3 separate regions of the Homo sapiens genome follow, and all the other regions are linked to region 1. Evidence: fine-mapped expression QTL. A gene starts in region 1. Each other region holds a variant in brackets. All regions are shown on one strand. Distances are between the middles of the regions.

Region 1 (5,223 bases):
AGGGTGCCCTCTGGCGAGGCGAGGCCGCCAGTGAAGGAGCTCGGCTGGTCGGGAGCCGGGGAGGCTCGGGGGCTGGGGGCTGCGGGGTGGGGGCTGAGGGGCGGGAGAAGGGGCTGCGGTAGAGAGCGAGAAAAACAAGACCCAGGCCCCGAGGAATCGCCTCCCTCCCGGCCCGACGTGCGCACGAGCGCACCTCTCCCTCCCCGACCGCCGCTCCGGAGCCGCTCTCGCAGAAATGTCATCCAGATGTTCAGCCTCCCTCCCCGCCGAGGTCTCCGCAGGGAGCTGCGCCAGCGAGCGCGAAGTCAGCAGTTGGCCCGAGCCCATTTCCCAGATGGGTGAGGGGAAGTCGGCTCTGTGCTTTCGCTCCTCTTCTCGGCCCGAACCTCTAGGCCTTTTCCCACGAGCAGCCAAGGGAGGGTAGGGCACGTGGCTCCCCGCACCCCGCAACACAGGGCTTGCCTCTGAACTGAACTTTCCTGAGAGTGAGTGCCGCTCCCACCCCATCTCACTCCAGCCTTCCTGGACCCTTTCTGAGAGGTCTGGCTTCCAGGCCACTAACTGAAGGGGCTGTTCTCTGTATCCCAGCACAGCGGTGGGTCACTTTACGGATGAGGAAACTGAGGCATAGAGTTTTTTGTTTTTTTTTTTACAGACCACACTGCTTGTGAGTGATGGAGGCGATATTTTACACAGGCTATCTAGCTTGGGTAGGCATTACTTTCATTTGCAAAACCAATGGGAAACCTAGGGGTAGAAACTTTAAAAGTAACTTGCCCAAGGTCACATAGTTATTAGGTGTCAGCTGTTGGGATTTGGACCCAGGACGTTGCCAGATTCTGGACTTAATTACTATGCTATACTGCCTCTGAAATTTCAGAAAAAGTTTAATGTTTACTATATACCAGGCACTATTCTAGGCTCTGTGAAGAATATCAGTGAACGAAACAAAACTCCTGCCCTCAGGGAAATTTTATTTTAGAGGCAGGGGTGGGGCAGTGGAGGAGGCGATAAACTAAATAAATATGTAAATGATGTAGTACGGTAAAAAGTGCTGAGCCAGGTGCAGTGGCTCACGCCTGTAATCCCAGCATTTGGGGAGGCCCATGCAGGAGGATTACTTGAGCTCAGGAATTCGAGACCAGCCCCAGCAACACGGCGAAACCCAGTCTCTACAAAAAAATGGAAAAATTAGCCCGGCATGTTGGCGCAGGCATCTACTTGGGAGGCTGAGGCAGGATAATCACTTGAGCCAGGGAGGCAGAGTTTACAGGGGGCCAAGATTGCACCACTGCACTCCAGCCTGGACGACAGAGCAAGACCGTGTCTCAAACAGACAAGCAAACAAACAAATGTGGTGTGGCAGAAAATCAAGCAGGGAAGGAGGATGGGGTGTGCCTAGGTTGGGGGATGTTGCAGTTTCAAATAGGGTGATAAGGGAAGGCCTTTGAGCAGACAGTTGCAAGATAGGAAGGAAAATTATTAAAGTTATACTTTTTTGGACTCCACCTCTACCAAATCAGTCTCCAGAGCTGAGGCCCTGGCATCTCTGTTTCTTTACAAACCTCACACGTGATTCAGGTGCTAAGCAAGTTCTGGAAGCTACTACTGCAGGGTACCTCTCTGCCCAGAGTGAGGACCATTTGCCTTCTGTTTTCAGCAAGTTGGGGAAGAAGTGGGGGTGAAGGTCTGGAAACTGACTATAAGGTGATGGTCGTATGCTGTGAGCTTACAAGAAATGGAAAAATCCAAAGATTAATCCCTTCTTCCTCATCTGGTGCCGAAGAAGAAGGGAACAAGGGATTCATTGGAGCCTATATTTCATCTGTCTTGGATTTTTGGCAATGAGTGTTTCTTCAGATTAAAATCTAACAAAGTATTCTCACTGAGAAGCAAGTTAACAAAGGATCTTAGAGATAATCTCTAAAGTAATTACAAGGGAGGAAACTGATAGCGGAAAGGGCTCTGCTCTGACTACACAGGTAGTTTTCAGGAGAGCTAAGATGAGAACACAGCTCTTCTGATATCCAGGCCAGTGCTCTTGCTGTCACAGGCATGCTAACACACAGTCCTATCCAGTAACATGTGTGACTGAACTGAGTGATTTACTGGATATTTAAGAAATGCTTGCAATGAGGTTTCAGGGGTGCTACTCCCACTTCCGAATCCTTGCTTTTAACCTGTGTCCATCCAGGCCTTCCCCTCAACATAATACTGGAATGTTGTTTGCTTTCAGGGCTATCAGCCCATCTCCTATGGATCTCAGCCAACCAGTGTCAGGGACCTGGCCAGTGATATTGACTTGGAGATCTCATATGAAGAGTCAACAAAGACGCAACTTAAATGCCCCATTAGGCTGGGAATTTGTGGTACATCTCCCTCTGCCAGCCTAGGAGAATGGCTGGCACCCAGTAGTATGTGCTGGAGATAAATACTCCAGTAATGTCTGGTGTCAGAAGGGCATTTGGCTCTGCTGCTTGGCACTTAGGTGATTTTCCTCAAGCCCCTTCTTTGTACCTCAGTGTGCTTTATTGTTGTGTTAGAGATACTACTGCTACTCACTTTGCGGGATTATTGGGATTTAATGAGATATTGAATATTTGTACTTTTGAAAGTTATTACTACTCAGCTATTTGATGTGTTGATTCAGCCTCTCTGTAAACTTCTTGAAGGCAGAGATTATGTATATTGCAGTTTCCATAATTCATGGTAAACCATTTATTACACCTGATTCCCTGTTTTCTCATCTGTCAAATGGAAACAATACCACTTATCTTGCTTCCCACACAAGGTTGTTAATGCCCCTCACGTTAAGCCAATAACTGTGACGGCCTTCTGTACCTTGCAAAGAGCTGTACAAGTGGGAGGCATCAGTATAGCAGTAGTAGTGCTTTGCACTTAATATATTGATATATTTAAACAGAGCTACAAATACAGACAGTTCCTAACGACCAAATTATTTTACCGTCTCGCAGGAGCAGCGTTGGCGAGTTTTAATAACCGGAGGTTGCTTCCAGATGTCAAGCAAGGCAGATTTAAGAAAGATTCGGTAGTTTGGAGGATGGCACACAGAATCCAGGAACCATGCTGCGTACCCTTTAAAAATTGGGGTGGAGGGGCGGGGCTGTTAGCAGGGACGCGTCTGGGCCAGTCGGTTTCCAGGAAGTGACGTCAGGCGGCCGCGGAGATGGAGGATTTGCTCGACTTGGACGAGGAGCTTCGCTACAGCTTGGCTACCTCCGTGAGGACCAATTCGGGGGCCTTGGGGGCCAGGATTTGGCGGGTGGGGAGGAGCGACCCCGCCGGCCCCGACTTCTCTGAGGCGACTCAGGGCGGCAGGCCTCGCGCCGCGCCGGGTGAGGCCCAGAAGGAGGCAGCCTCACCGCCCCGCCCCCAGGCCACTGTGGGCTCCGCCGCTGCTGGCCTGGGGTTTGCTTTCTTTAAAATCCTCAGAAAGTAGAAAACACCCTGTCCCCGCCGGCGTCTAGGACCGTGGGAAATTTCCGAGCCTTTCTCCGTTTTCTAGAGCCCCGAGTGCGAACTTCCCCAGAACAGATCGATCACAGGGTGATAGGGGAGCCCCGGCCGGGGTCGCACTCGCTCCCATCCTAGAGTTTTTCCTTTGGGACACCTCGTCGCAGAAGTTCCTGCAAAAGCCGCACTGTTTTATGCATGGAAGGGAGGCAGGCAGGGACGGCCTTTCTTCCCGGTAATCCCCGTGGGGAGGTGGGAGTTAACCTCAGTTACCTCAGTAGTTAAGGAAACCAAGACCGATTTGTAACGTGAGGGAGTGATTAGGTGCTCAGGCACTGAGGCCAGATGGAGCATAGAGCTGTTGCCTGGGTTCAAAAAAAAAAAAAAAACCTAAAAAACGATTTAACCTTTCCGAGCCTTGGTTTCCTTATGCCTAGAATGGAGGTGTTACAGTGAAAAGGAAATGCAACAATACATGGGAAGCGTGTAACTCAGTGCTTGGCATATGTTATCACGGAAGAGGTCAGAAGAGGTTAGCTACTGCTGCCTATGAGGCTGTGGTTTACCCAGCGTTATAGTTAGTAAATAATGGAGCTAGATTCAAGACCCAAGTTCAGTGTCTACCTTCCTCCTTTGTAACCCCCATCAGGCCTTTTTATCTTTAAAACTGGTTAGGATCGCACTTACTAAAAGATTGGGCCCCAGAGCAAGTCTTTAGTGTCTGCTGTGAAATCTCTAAGTGTTTTGAAGGTCACCAGGCCTGCTGATACGTGAATGTTTTTTAGTACCTGGGGATGTGAATGTAGTTATTCATTCATTCAACAAATATTTATTGAGCCCCTACTGTGTATCAGGCAGTGTCCTAGGTGCTGGAGATACAGCAATGAATAAAGCAAAGTTCCTGCCCTCATGTGATTATGTTGTAGTGGGAGAAGATGGGCAATAAATAGACTACATTTAACATACACAAAAATCAGGCAGTAAAGAAGTTTTTCTACCCTATGGATCTATACAGGGTCTTCAAAAAGTTTAAAACCTTGAAATACTTAAAAATTATTAGAGAAAACACCTGTGAACAGCATTTAGCGACAAGATCATTGAATTTTTGTTTTAGCACAACCGCCATATGTAGGATGCTGTATTCAGATACTCAGTGCTGTGACAAATGGAAAAGGGCAACCATGGTGAAGGGATGGAATTGTCTGACTTGAGAAGAAAATAAGCTGCTTATTATCAGAAAGATTGTTTCCACCATCCCTGAAACCTAAATGACACTACAATTTGAAGTGTCGACATTGCATAAGAGTTTTTACGAGCTCTTCTGTAACCCCTCTCAGTTTAGTGGGGCAGTCAGTCCTTAGAACATCTTAAAACAAGTTTCAGCAGGGTAGAGTGGAAAGCACCCAGGAAACCCAGGATCTGAAATCAGAAGGCTTTGCTCCTAGGTTTATGTCAGCCACTTCATCACCTTCCTAGGCCTCAGTTTCCTCCTTTGTAAAATGACAGCAGTCTCAGTTTCTGTCCATTATTGTGAGAATCAAAGGAAGCCACATTAAATGAGATCTAAAAGTGCTTATATTAATGCTGTTTTTTTTAAACAAAGTAAGCAAAAGTATAAATATTTCAGCACCCAAGAGTCTGACTAAATAAAGTTTTGTTTATGTGCTGGGAAGCCTTAGAGGCAGAGTCTCCACCGGAGGGCCTTGGGAAACACCTGCAAATGATTCATTTGATGGCCAAGAATTTTGA
Region 2 (5,223 bases), 98 kb after region 1:
AAGAGGGAAGCCTGTGGGGAGTGAGAGTGGACATCGGGCAGAAGTGCAATTCCTCAGAGCCCCAAGACGCTGGGCAGAGTTGACAGGACCCAAATGCTAAAGTTGTGGAGGGAAAGGGGAGTTTGGGAAGACCCTGTCCTGAGCCCTAAACTCAGCACAGTGCATTTTCTTACCAACTTCTGAATATTCATCTCAGGCTGGATTCTGCACCCGAGGAGAGCCAGGCACACTCCAAAACTGTCACACTGCCGATGGTGCGTGGCACAGCCAGCTTCCTCTCTGTCCCTCCATAGGGCCTGTGCAGTCTTACCAGCCTGGGGAACGGCATTCTCAGCAGCCTGCACAATGGACTGTATTAATCACGTAGAACGAGAGGGAAAAAGAAAGCTAAATTTCTATTAGCATAAGAAATAGAATCTTAGAGCATTCCATCTCCAATTCTCTAGCAGGATAGAGAGATATAATCTAAGCTCTGAACAGCTTCTTTCTAGCTATAAGACTTGCTAAATGTGGTTCATTATTTGGGGGGTGGTGGATGTGTCTCTGCTTTATTTTCCCTAGCAGCAATTTCTTTCTATTTTTATCCCTTTTCACTCTTTTTATCCCTTGTTTTCTCTGCCTGTCTCTTTCTGTTGAATTTTCTCTGTGTCTGTCTCTCCTTTGCATGCTCTCTTTTTCCAGGTACAACATCTGTGCCTCCACAGTCGGAAGTCATAATAAAGACACCAGGCTTGGAACTGACATTTCCATCCTCTGGCGTCACTTGACTAGAGTGATCAAAAGTCGAAATCACGAATTGCCTGAAAGTGGCAAGGGCCTTCTCAGCTGTTGTTGAAATGATTTGCACCTCTTTGAAAACTAAGATTGAATTCAGTCCATGAAAGCAGAAATGAAAGATGTCTTCACCAGTCTACCTTTGGGATTTCTCCTTCTTTCCGTGTTTACAGTTGCTTTGGGAATTCCAGGACTGTCTCACCCCACCAGGCCTTTTTTCTTGCACCATCCCTCCCTTCTCCCCCACCCCTGACCGTTTAAAACAAAATGTCTCAACCAGTCAGTGATACTCACTTGGAGAAGGAAATGTTTCTTTAGGATGTTAGGTTGACCCATGAGAACATGGACAATTTTTGGTCACTTAAGCAAGTTGCCACAATTAAGGGATGGACTGGTTTCCCAGTTCTCTGTTTGCATGATTTTGTTGGACTGGTGGAAGAAATGGCCTCGTGTCTCCTCGTATGTTGTCTGGAGAGTTCAGAGATGGAAAATCTTGAGACAGCAAGAAAAGCATGATTGTAGAATCAGCATCCCTGATTACATTAGACCTGGCAAATGGACGCCTGGATCCCAGGGAGTCAGGCTATGTCATTAGATGGAAGATGCCCTTGAGATGCAGGCTGAGGGCCCTGATGATTGCACTGCGGGGCTAATGCACATAGAGATCTGGGTCATGAGGAGTGGCACTCACTGCGGCATCCGCTTTGTGACACTACATGTTCTCAGTTCCTCTGTCTCTGACCATGCCAGGCTCACTTGTCAGTTCCTCTTCTTTCCTCTAATAAGCCCTTTGTTACATTTATTTCTTTACATTTCTCCTTGGAGATCCACTGCAGTGGCTTCTAACCTGTTGCACGCGTCAGAATCACCAAGGAACGCCTGGGAAAAAAATCTGGATGCTTGAGCGTGACCCAGGAGGTTCTATCTCAGCAGGTTCTGGAATGAGGCCTGGGATTCAGACATCGTTGAAACTCCACCTTTGATCCTACCCCTAGTTTGTATCTGAGTGTCCTTCCTGCCCCAGCCCACAGCCCCATGGCTGGTGTGTTGAAGGGGAATGAGTAAGAAGTGGAGAAGCAGGCACAATCCCTATGAGTTCTGCAGACAGTGTTGCCTCTGCCTCTCCTTGCAGATATTCCTATCATTCCGGATCTGGAGGAAGTACAGGAAGAAGACTTTGTTTTGCAGGTGGCAGCCCCTCCCAGGTAGGTTAAATCAGATATGATTGGGGAGGCAAAGAACACGTGAATTAATACACTCCAGATATCATCTATAGTGGACCTTGATGTCAATCTGGATCTTTCTGGTGTTGGGCTCCATCCAGGGTTCCCATTTTGTTATTCCCATTCTGGTCATCCCCTGCTGTATACAAGGTTCTGGGGACGGTGGCCCGGCAGCACTCCTGGAACAGGTCCTGCCTGGGGTTCCC[G/A]CCTCTCGCTCTCTCTTTCCTTCAGCATCCAGATAAAGCGGGTGATGACCTACCGTGACCTGGACAATGACCTCATGAAGTACTCAGCCATTCAGACACTGGTGAGTGGAACAGCTTCTGCATAGAGAGGCGGGCTCCAAGCAATGGGCTTCAATCCGTAGAGATTTCTCAGTTCCTCCCAAGCTATACAGCGCCTCCACCAGTCCCCTGAGGCTGCCTGCCTGGCACCCATACCTCTGCTGCAGGTTTTATCATCATTCATCTCACAGCAACCCTGGACCCAACATAGTACAGTGTTTCTCAGTGCCAGGCTCCCACCTGCCTCCATGGCTGCCCACTTGGCACCTGATGGCACCCCACTCCCCTCTGTCCCTGTGGCTGTACTGCTGTCACACTCGGTCCTCCTGGTATGGTCCTTTGCCCCAAAGCACGCCCAGCATGTGGGAAGCATAGCCTTCCCTCATTTCTCAGTGGGCATGTGGTTCATTCATGATTTTACTCTCTTGTGAAGGCATTCCTGCAGGTCTCAGTTTGGGAAGTTCTGACACACAAAAACTGATCCCGGTTTTGTGAGAAAGAGTTGCCTGAAAGCCCTCAAGGTGCTCAGCCTGACCTTTTTTTGTTTGCATTCACAGGATGGGGAGATCGACCTGAAACTCCTCACCAAAGTGCTCGCGCCGGAGCACGAAGTCCGGGAGGTACAGTGGTGGCAGCAATTCCCCGGTCTCTCAGCTCTGGCATTCCCATAACCAGCCGACTCCCGGGCTGGCCTGTGCCTCCCTGAGGCCTGGATGGGAGGGAGAAGTCAGCTACAGTTGAGGGAAAAGGCCTTTCTTTGTCTTACCCAGCGAAACCCTTCTTGGCAGGATGATGTCGGCTGGGACTGGGACCATCTGTTCACTGAGGTGTCCTCAGAGGTCCTCACTGAGTGGGACCCACTGCAGACGGAGAAGGAGGACCCTGCGGGGCAGGCCAGGCACACCTGAGCCCGTCACCCATGCTCTAGACATGAAGAAATGCAATGAGCTTAAAGCTAAAGAAGCTTGTAAGCAGCTCCGAATTTTTACCTGGAATATTTTGTAATAAAAATATTTATATTCAGTCAACCACATTGGATAATTCAATTGCAATAAATTGCTTATTCTGTGCCATCTCCTCCATTTCTTTCCAGTCTCTTCTTGGAAAATGTATCACAAGTGAAGGAGAACAGCTTTTAAACCAGCTGATAGGAACTCAGAACTCGCGGCCTTGTTGCGGAGCATGTGGGAGAGTTCGATTCAGGCGGAGAAGGAGTGGGCACTCCTACTGAAAGCTGTTCACTTCTCGGGAGGTTTCAAACAGTTGCCTGCTGGGGTTCTGGGGCGGGGCCTCCCTTCCCGTGGGTGCTCTGGGCCCTTTGTGACCTTAGTGACGCAGCACTGCCACCTGCATCATAGGCTTCCAGGCAGCTGCAGCGGAGGGAGGAGGCGGCGGGAGGGATAAGGAGACTCATTCTTCACTCGCATCAGGGTTTGGTGGCTGTTGTGACAATATTCTCCTTTCTCCCCTCTTCCTGCAGTCCATGCCTTGAGCTCCAAAAGCTTCTACAGGTTCCCAGAGCCTCATTTCTGATTCTCATGGGAAGGGGCCAGCCAGCAGCCCTGAGAATTCCATGGAAGCCCTCTCTTACAGAGCCTGGGCCTCCCTTCTCCTTATCCTTTTAGATACGTTGCAGCCATCTCCACCGCTGCAAGTATTATAACCGCCTGGTTCCAAGATGTGCTGAGATCAGGAGCAGAGTCCCACCCTTCTCCTAAACAGAGCTGTCTTTTGTTTTTGTTTTTCTCTTTTCCTCCCTGAGACTTCTTATCTGAGGACAGAGCCCCTTCGCTGCCTGCTTCTCTTGGATGCGGCTTTGGGTTAGGCTGGCAGCAGCTAACTAAGGCCCACTCCCCGGCCATAGGGAGCGCTGAGTGCTTCTGTTATCCTGCCTGGAAAGCCCTTCATTAAAATTCAGAAAAACAAAGAGGCTCAACACATCAAAAACCCACTGGGGGGTTATTTTTGTGTGACTACGGTGCCCTTCCCCGGCGAGCCACATGGCTCCAGAACAGGCAGAGCGAATGCTTGTCTGTTAATTATAAACTCGGGGATTTAGTGGCTTTAGGGTTCCATTTCCTCCTTTTCCAGAGTCACACTTTTAGCCCAGGCAGCCCCTCTTTGGAATAATTCCCATGGCCACTGAAAAGTTTCCATCCAGGCTAGTTTTGCTTGAGTCTACATCAGTCTGAAACCCAAAGGAGAAAGGCTGTATTTCTACTCCCTTAATTACTGGAAATCCAACTGCCTCAGGACTCTGATAACCTTGGAGGTCTCCAGCCAGCCTGAGCAAGTGGCTAGGGGCTGACTTCCTTTCTCCCTTTATTTTACAACAGCAGCAACAAGATCTAACATGGAGCTCTCACTGCATGCCAGGTGCTGGGTTCAGCACACAGGAATGATCAGATTTCATCCTCACAGCCTCCCAGTAAAGCAGATGCTGTGGTTATCCCATTTTACAGATGAGGAAACAGACTCAGAGAGGTTAAGAGATCGCCCAAGATTATCCAGCTGAGTGGCAGAGCTGGAATTCCAAGTTCTGATGCCACAGCGCTTTACCACCTGTGTTTCTGTTACCCACTGCTGCCTTCATCTTGGGAAAGTAATCTAGTTTATAGCAGACAGAATTTACAAGTTCACTGGGAGAAAGAAGTCCACTGCCACCACCCCTCCCCGTCCCCACTCTTGTCTGTGGAGTGACCACAGAGCAGAGGGCTTCTGTCAGTCCCCTGGTGTGAAGCCTGGCAACATAGGTGAGCTCAAGAGTCCTGGCCCCAGGGCAGTGGGACTGGGTAGGAGCAGCTCTACGTTGAGCAAACTGAGCTCAGCCAAATCAGGTCCAGGCCACATGTGACTGAGTCTCCTTTCACTTGTCCTGTGCCCTGATCATGTCCTGTCTGGGCTTCTTCCTTTACCCAGCATTTGCTCATCATGGCTTCAGG
Region 3 (5,223 bases), 74 kb after region 1:
AGACCAAACTCATCTGCAGGCTAGGTAAGGCTGGGAAGTGGCCAGTGTTCGGTCTGTGACCCAGATCAGAGGCAGGGCGCACCATCCCACTCAGTGCGCTCCCAGAACCCGTTATTTCTGGCAGAGAGAGAGAATGAGAGAGAACACGCCACCTGAGGGCATCCCTGCTGCCCGTCCTTGAGGACTCCATTTGATCTTTCTTCCTTCCTCTGTTGGGAGAAAAGGGAGAGGGGAGAGTCCTTGGGCTCCCCCTAGAGTGAGAGAGCAGGATGTGGGCTCAGCAGCAATTAAGCTGAATATTAAACTCATCCCCCTTTTGGATATTGAGTGGATAAATGGCAATTAATCAGCCTCCCCCGAAAGATTAGCATTATCATTATTGTTTCCTTCAGACAGAATCGCCACTGGTTTTGCCACCGCACATTGTGTAGGGAAGGAACGATTCGGTCATAACTCCTGAGGGTAATTGGAGACAAATATGTCTCTTATGTACACAACGAAGGCGCCAGCCTTCCTTCCTAGCCTCTTTAATCCCGGGATTCTTCTTTTATCCCTGTTTTCATCCAAGCACATCTACCCTTGGTGACATTAGCTGTGTCATTCGGACAATGGGGGTATAGAGTTTAACTTCATGAGGACAATTAGAGGCATTGGTCCTTGGGGACGGCGTGAACTGGGAAGACAGCTTCTGTCCTCCCACACAGACAGAAGGTGGCTTTGATGGCTACTGGGTGCTCTTCCTTTAGGATTCCGTTTACTTAGAATAGGCATTGGAAGCCTATAGCATCCAGCAACACCAGGCTGGGGATGCCCTGGGCACCCTGCAGTGGTTTCTCTTTGGTGCCTCCCACTACCCATTCTGTCTCCTTCTGCCCTCATAACCTTCATTGCTGAGTCTCCTTTATCTCTCTTTAAGGGTCAGAAACTGCAGCCTGGGAGATTCCCTTAGAGTTGTTACACCCTGTTCTTCCAGCTTGACCTACCCATTCTCCCACCTCACTTCAGCCGTCATTCTTCCTTTTTAAAAATGGTACAGTTGATAGAGTCTAAATTCCATGGAAAGCAGTCTATTTAAACTTTGACTTACTTTTTAAAATCATTTTAATTATTTTATTTTATATTATTATTTTTTTTGAGACGGAGTCTCACTCTGTTGCTAGGCTGGAGTGAAATGGCGTGATCTTGGCTCACCGCAACCTCCACCTTCCGTGTTCAAGCGATTCTCCTGTCTCAGCCTCTGAGTAGCTGGGATTACAGGTGCCCACCACCATACCTGGCTAATTTTTGTATGTTTAGTAGAGATGGGGTTTCACCATGTTGGACGGGCTGGTCTCAAACTCCTGACCTCAAATGATCCACCTGCCTTGGCCTCCCAAAGTATTAGAATTACAGGCGTGAGCCACTGTGCCTGGCTGAAATTTTTATTTTTTAATTGACAAAAAAAAAAAAAATGAATGTAGAATTCTACTTTTGGCAGGGGGAGTTATTTGCGTTTTGCAAGAATTGCTGGTTGGCTCCTCGAAACCAATTCTTACTGGCAAGGCTGGTGGCCTACCCTGTCAAGGTCTACATCCTGCCTCCAGGCCATTTGCCGCCCTTTGCCCCCATCCTTTGCTCTTGCTCATCATGGTGCTAGATTTCTGACTTCAAATAACTCATTTAAAACAAACAAACAAAAAACCCTATGATGACAGAATAGTGGAAGTTTTCAGACATACAAAAATGTAATCTCCATGTACCCAATATTCAACTTTAATAATCATCAACATTTCGCCAGTCTTATTAGAAAACTTCACATCAGTGTTTCTCAGAGTGTGAGTAGTGACCCACTTAGATTAGAATTTAAAAATGCATATTCCTGGGCTGCCCCCACCCACCCAGACCAGCTGATTCAGAAATCTCCCTGCCAGGCCCACCAATCTGTGTATCTAACAGGCCCCGCGGATGGTTCTTATGCACCCTGACGTGTGAGAACCACTACCATAGATACGCGTGTATCAGCCAGGCCCTGTCACTCCTCACCCACCATCACTCAGAAGGTCCTCTCGTCCTTCGTGTGAAGGGCACAGAAAAGCAGTTCCAAAGTCTGAAGCCTGAACTGCGAGGCGAGGACATCCCTTTTTGCTCGTTGCAAGTCGCAAGTGCTGACAGCTAACAACACCAAATAAGACCCAGGGTCTCAGTCCTAAGAAAGCACTCTATAAATCAGTCAGTTAATTGCTGAAAGAAAAGAGGGCACTGAATCATCTGTATCTATTTGAATTTTAAGCCACTCGCTCAACCTGCACTTACACTCTCAACAATCCAATTTGGAGTGAGGCTGACATAAAGCTGTAAGAAGGCACTACAGCATCTTCAGTTCTCTCATGCTGGTTGTGGGGCTTGTCTCTAAAGAGGACTGCAGACAAATAAAGCACTTGAGATATACTAATTTGCCTCCACTTTTGAAACCTTCCTCAAGATACTACCTGGTGCATGAGACTAGTGGGCTCTCAAAAACCTTGTCTTTT[CT/C]TTTTTTTTTTCAGGTTTAGGAGGAAGGCTTCTGAAGAAATAGAAGAGTACGTTTCCAGTATTCTTATTCTTATGGTATCCTATGTTGATCTTGGTCAACAGTGCAGTCTTGGTGGTCATGATCTGTTCCACCTATGTTGAACACTGTGTTAGAAGTCTGGGGCTAGAATTATTGATGCCTGCTGAATCCAAGGTTTGGTTAATCCCGCTTCCTCAACTGAAGGTCTGGACCCTGGCATTGATGCCCATGTCCTATCTCCCACTGTGTGGTTTTAGAATTATATGTCCAGGTATCAGGGTACTGGCCCATGCCTTCTGCATTATTGATATAGATGGGCAGAAGCAATACCAGCTTCTAAGCCTTGCCTTCTCATAAGACTTATATCAGAAAAGAAAGAAGTTTTCTAGATAAAGGTGCTGTGAAGGTAGGGCCACCCAGTTTCCTACTCCCAGGGGCGGAAGCTGCATTCATGTCATAGCCTCTGTGATGCTGTCCTCTGGAATAGTGCATCGCACAGCCTGTGCAACCACACACGGCACACCCAGTGGCCTAATTAGGTTTGACTAAGTTGACAGAGAAAAACAGGTTCAGGGACATTTTCATCTAGGAGAAAGAATGGATACAATAAACATTTGGGATGTTCCTTTCCGTGTTTGAAACTCATTTTTTGCTGTCCTTTTCTTCTTTTTTGGGGGCAGTTTCCGCCTCAGACCACAGAGCCTGAATGGATCAGATTATGGAGGAGGTAAGAGGCCCTTGGAGGAAGTCAAAAGGTCTTCTAGAGAGGCCCCAGAACATTTCCTGGGCTACAGCTAAGGCACTGTTGGCTGCAGCATCACTGAAGACATTTGCAGTGGTCTTCTGACGCATGCTGATGCACATCTTCATGCCTTGCTGAATGCTGCCACCTCTACCTGGAGTATCTCTCCCTTCTTTATCTGATAACCCTGCTTATCCTTCAAAAGGTCAGCCAAAGCATCACTTCCCCTGAAACATCTTCCCTTCCCATCCCACTCCCTCTCTCACTGGATGTTCTTTCTCCATGCTCCTCTAACCTCCTTGGCAAACCAACATTGTAATAACATGGCCAATATTTACTAGGTGTTGACTATATCCCAAGCACTGTCCTTCCAGTTTACACATGTTAAAGCATTTTCTCTCACCACAACCCCGTAGTACTACTATTATCCCCATTTTACAGTTGTGGAAACGAAGGCATGGAGAGGTTAAGTAAGTTGCCCAAGGTCACACAGTTGCTAAGTGAGTAGAGCCAGGATTTGAGTACAGTTAGGATGTACTGTGCTTTAACTCTTTGTTGGCTTGATTGTTTTCCCACCAGACCTCTAAGCTTCTTGATGGCAGACAACACATGTTCTTTATCTTTGCATCTCCAGTGTGTGACGCATAGTAGTTAGTTAATGGCTAGCTATATAAACGCAGGGAAAACAGTACTAACAAGGCAAGTAGCTGTGGCACAGTGGAAGCCTATGTTCAAATATCAGGAGAAAAGATGAAGTTTGTGTGTGTCTCTAAAATGAAGCCTTCTAGGGAGGAGATTACGTAGGGGATCCAAATTATTATTGTTATTATTATTATTATTATTTTTTGAGGCAGAGTCTCGCTGTGTCACCCAGACTGGAGTGCAGTGGTGCAATCTTGGCTCACTGAAACCTCTGCCTCCCAGGTTCAAGTGATTCTCCTGCCTCAGCCTCCCGAGTAGCTGGGGTTGCAGGTGCATGCCACCACACCCAGCTAATTTTTTGTATTTTTAGTAGAGATGGGGTTTCACCATGTTGGCCAGGCTGGTCTCTAACACCTGACCTCAAGTGATCCTCCCACCTTGGCTTCCCAAAGTGCTGAGATTACAGCCGTGAGCCACCGCGCCCGGCCCCAAATTGTCAAAGCCTTTTTTTTTTAGACACACTTATTTATAATTTTCACACTCCTTGTTTGTTTGTGTAGATCCTAGTTTCTATCTGGCATCAGTTTCCTTCAGCCTGAAAAACTTTATCATTATTTTGTAGAACAGGTTGTCTGGCAAGAAATTCTGTCTGCTTTATTTGTCTGAAAATGTCATCTTCAACTTTTTACCAGACACAGAATTCTAGGCTGACAATTTTTTTCTTTTAGCATTTTAAATAGTTATTTTATTGTCTTTGGCCTTCTTTCTTTCTTCCCTCCCTTCCTCCCTCCCTCCCTTTCTTCCTTCCTTCCTTCCTTCCTTCCTTCCTTCTTTTCTTTCCTTTTCCTGCTCTCCCCTCCCCTCTCTTTTCTTTTCTTTCTTTTTTTTGAGACAGGGTCTCACTCCATCGTCCAGGCTGGAGTGCAGTGCCATGATCTTGGGCCCACTGCAACCTCCACCTCCTGGGTTTAAGTAATTCTCCTGCCTCAGCCTCCTGACTAGCTGGGACTACAGTCACATGCCACCACACCTGGCTAATTTGTGTATTTTTAGTAGAGACAGAGTTTTACCATGTTGGCCAGTTTGGTCTCAAACTCCTGACCTCAAGTGATCCACCCGCTGTAATAGGTGTGAGCCACCTCGCCTGGCCTACATTGTTTCTGATGAGAAGACGATCATTATTCTTATCTTTGTTCCCCTGTATGTAATGTATCTTTCCCCCTATCTGCTTTTAAGATTTCTTCTCCATTATCAGTTATTTTCAGCAATTTGTTCCTAATATGCCTTGGTGTGGTTTTCTTTGTGTTTA

What was found. PIP is the estimated chance that this variant, and not a neighbour inherited with it, causes the effect. A credible set is the group of variants that fine-mapping cannot tell apart.
Region 2: its variant is the best candidate, but not a certain one, in a credible set for the expression of IFT43 in whole blood (TOPMed, PIP 0.76).
Region 3: its variant is the best candidate, but not a certain one, in a credible set for the expression of IFT43 in whole blood (TOPMed, PIP 0.83).

Annotation. Positions count from the first base shown.
Region 1 is chr14:75,982,600-75,987,822 of GRCh38, forward strand. IFT43 (intraflagellar transport 43) reads left to right here and starts at 3,164. Exons shown (of 9, transcript NM_001102564.3): 1 at 3,164-3,241. The coding sequence starts at 3,188. It also overlaps a transcript of TGFB3 not described here. RefSeq lists enhancers at 1-30, 2,817-3,318 and silencers at 71-190, 3,145-3,454.
Region 2 is chr14:76,080,389-76,085,611 of GRCh38, forward strand. IFT43 (intraflagellar transport 43) reads left to right here. Exons shown (of 9, transcript NM_001102564.3): 6 at 1,907-1,979; 7 at 2,229-2,304; 8 at 2,839-2,901; 9 at 3,070-3,354. The coding sequence ends at 3,189. It overlaps LOC105370573 (a long non-coding RNA gene), which reads right to left and starts at 265. Exons shown (of 2, transcript XR_007064270.1): 1 at 174-265. RefSeq lists an enhancer at 3,496-4,482. The variant G/A (reference allele first, on the strand shown) is at 2,204.
Region 3 is chr14:76,056,117-76,061,339 of GRCh38, forward strand. It overlaps IFT43 (intraflagellar transport 43), which reads left to right. Exons shown (of 9, transcript NM_001102564.3): 4 at 2,526-2,558; 5 at 3,211-3,257. Among named protein-coding and RNA genes, the nearest start is that of IFT43, 73 kb to the left of the region's middle. The variant CT/C (reference allele first, on the strand shown) is at 2,511.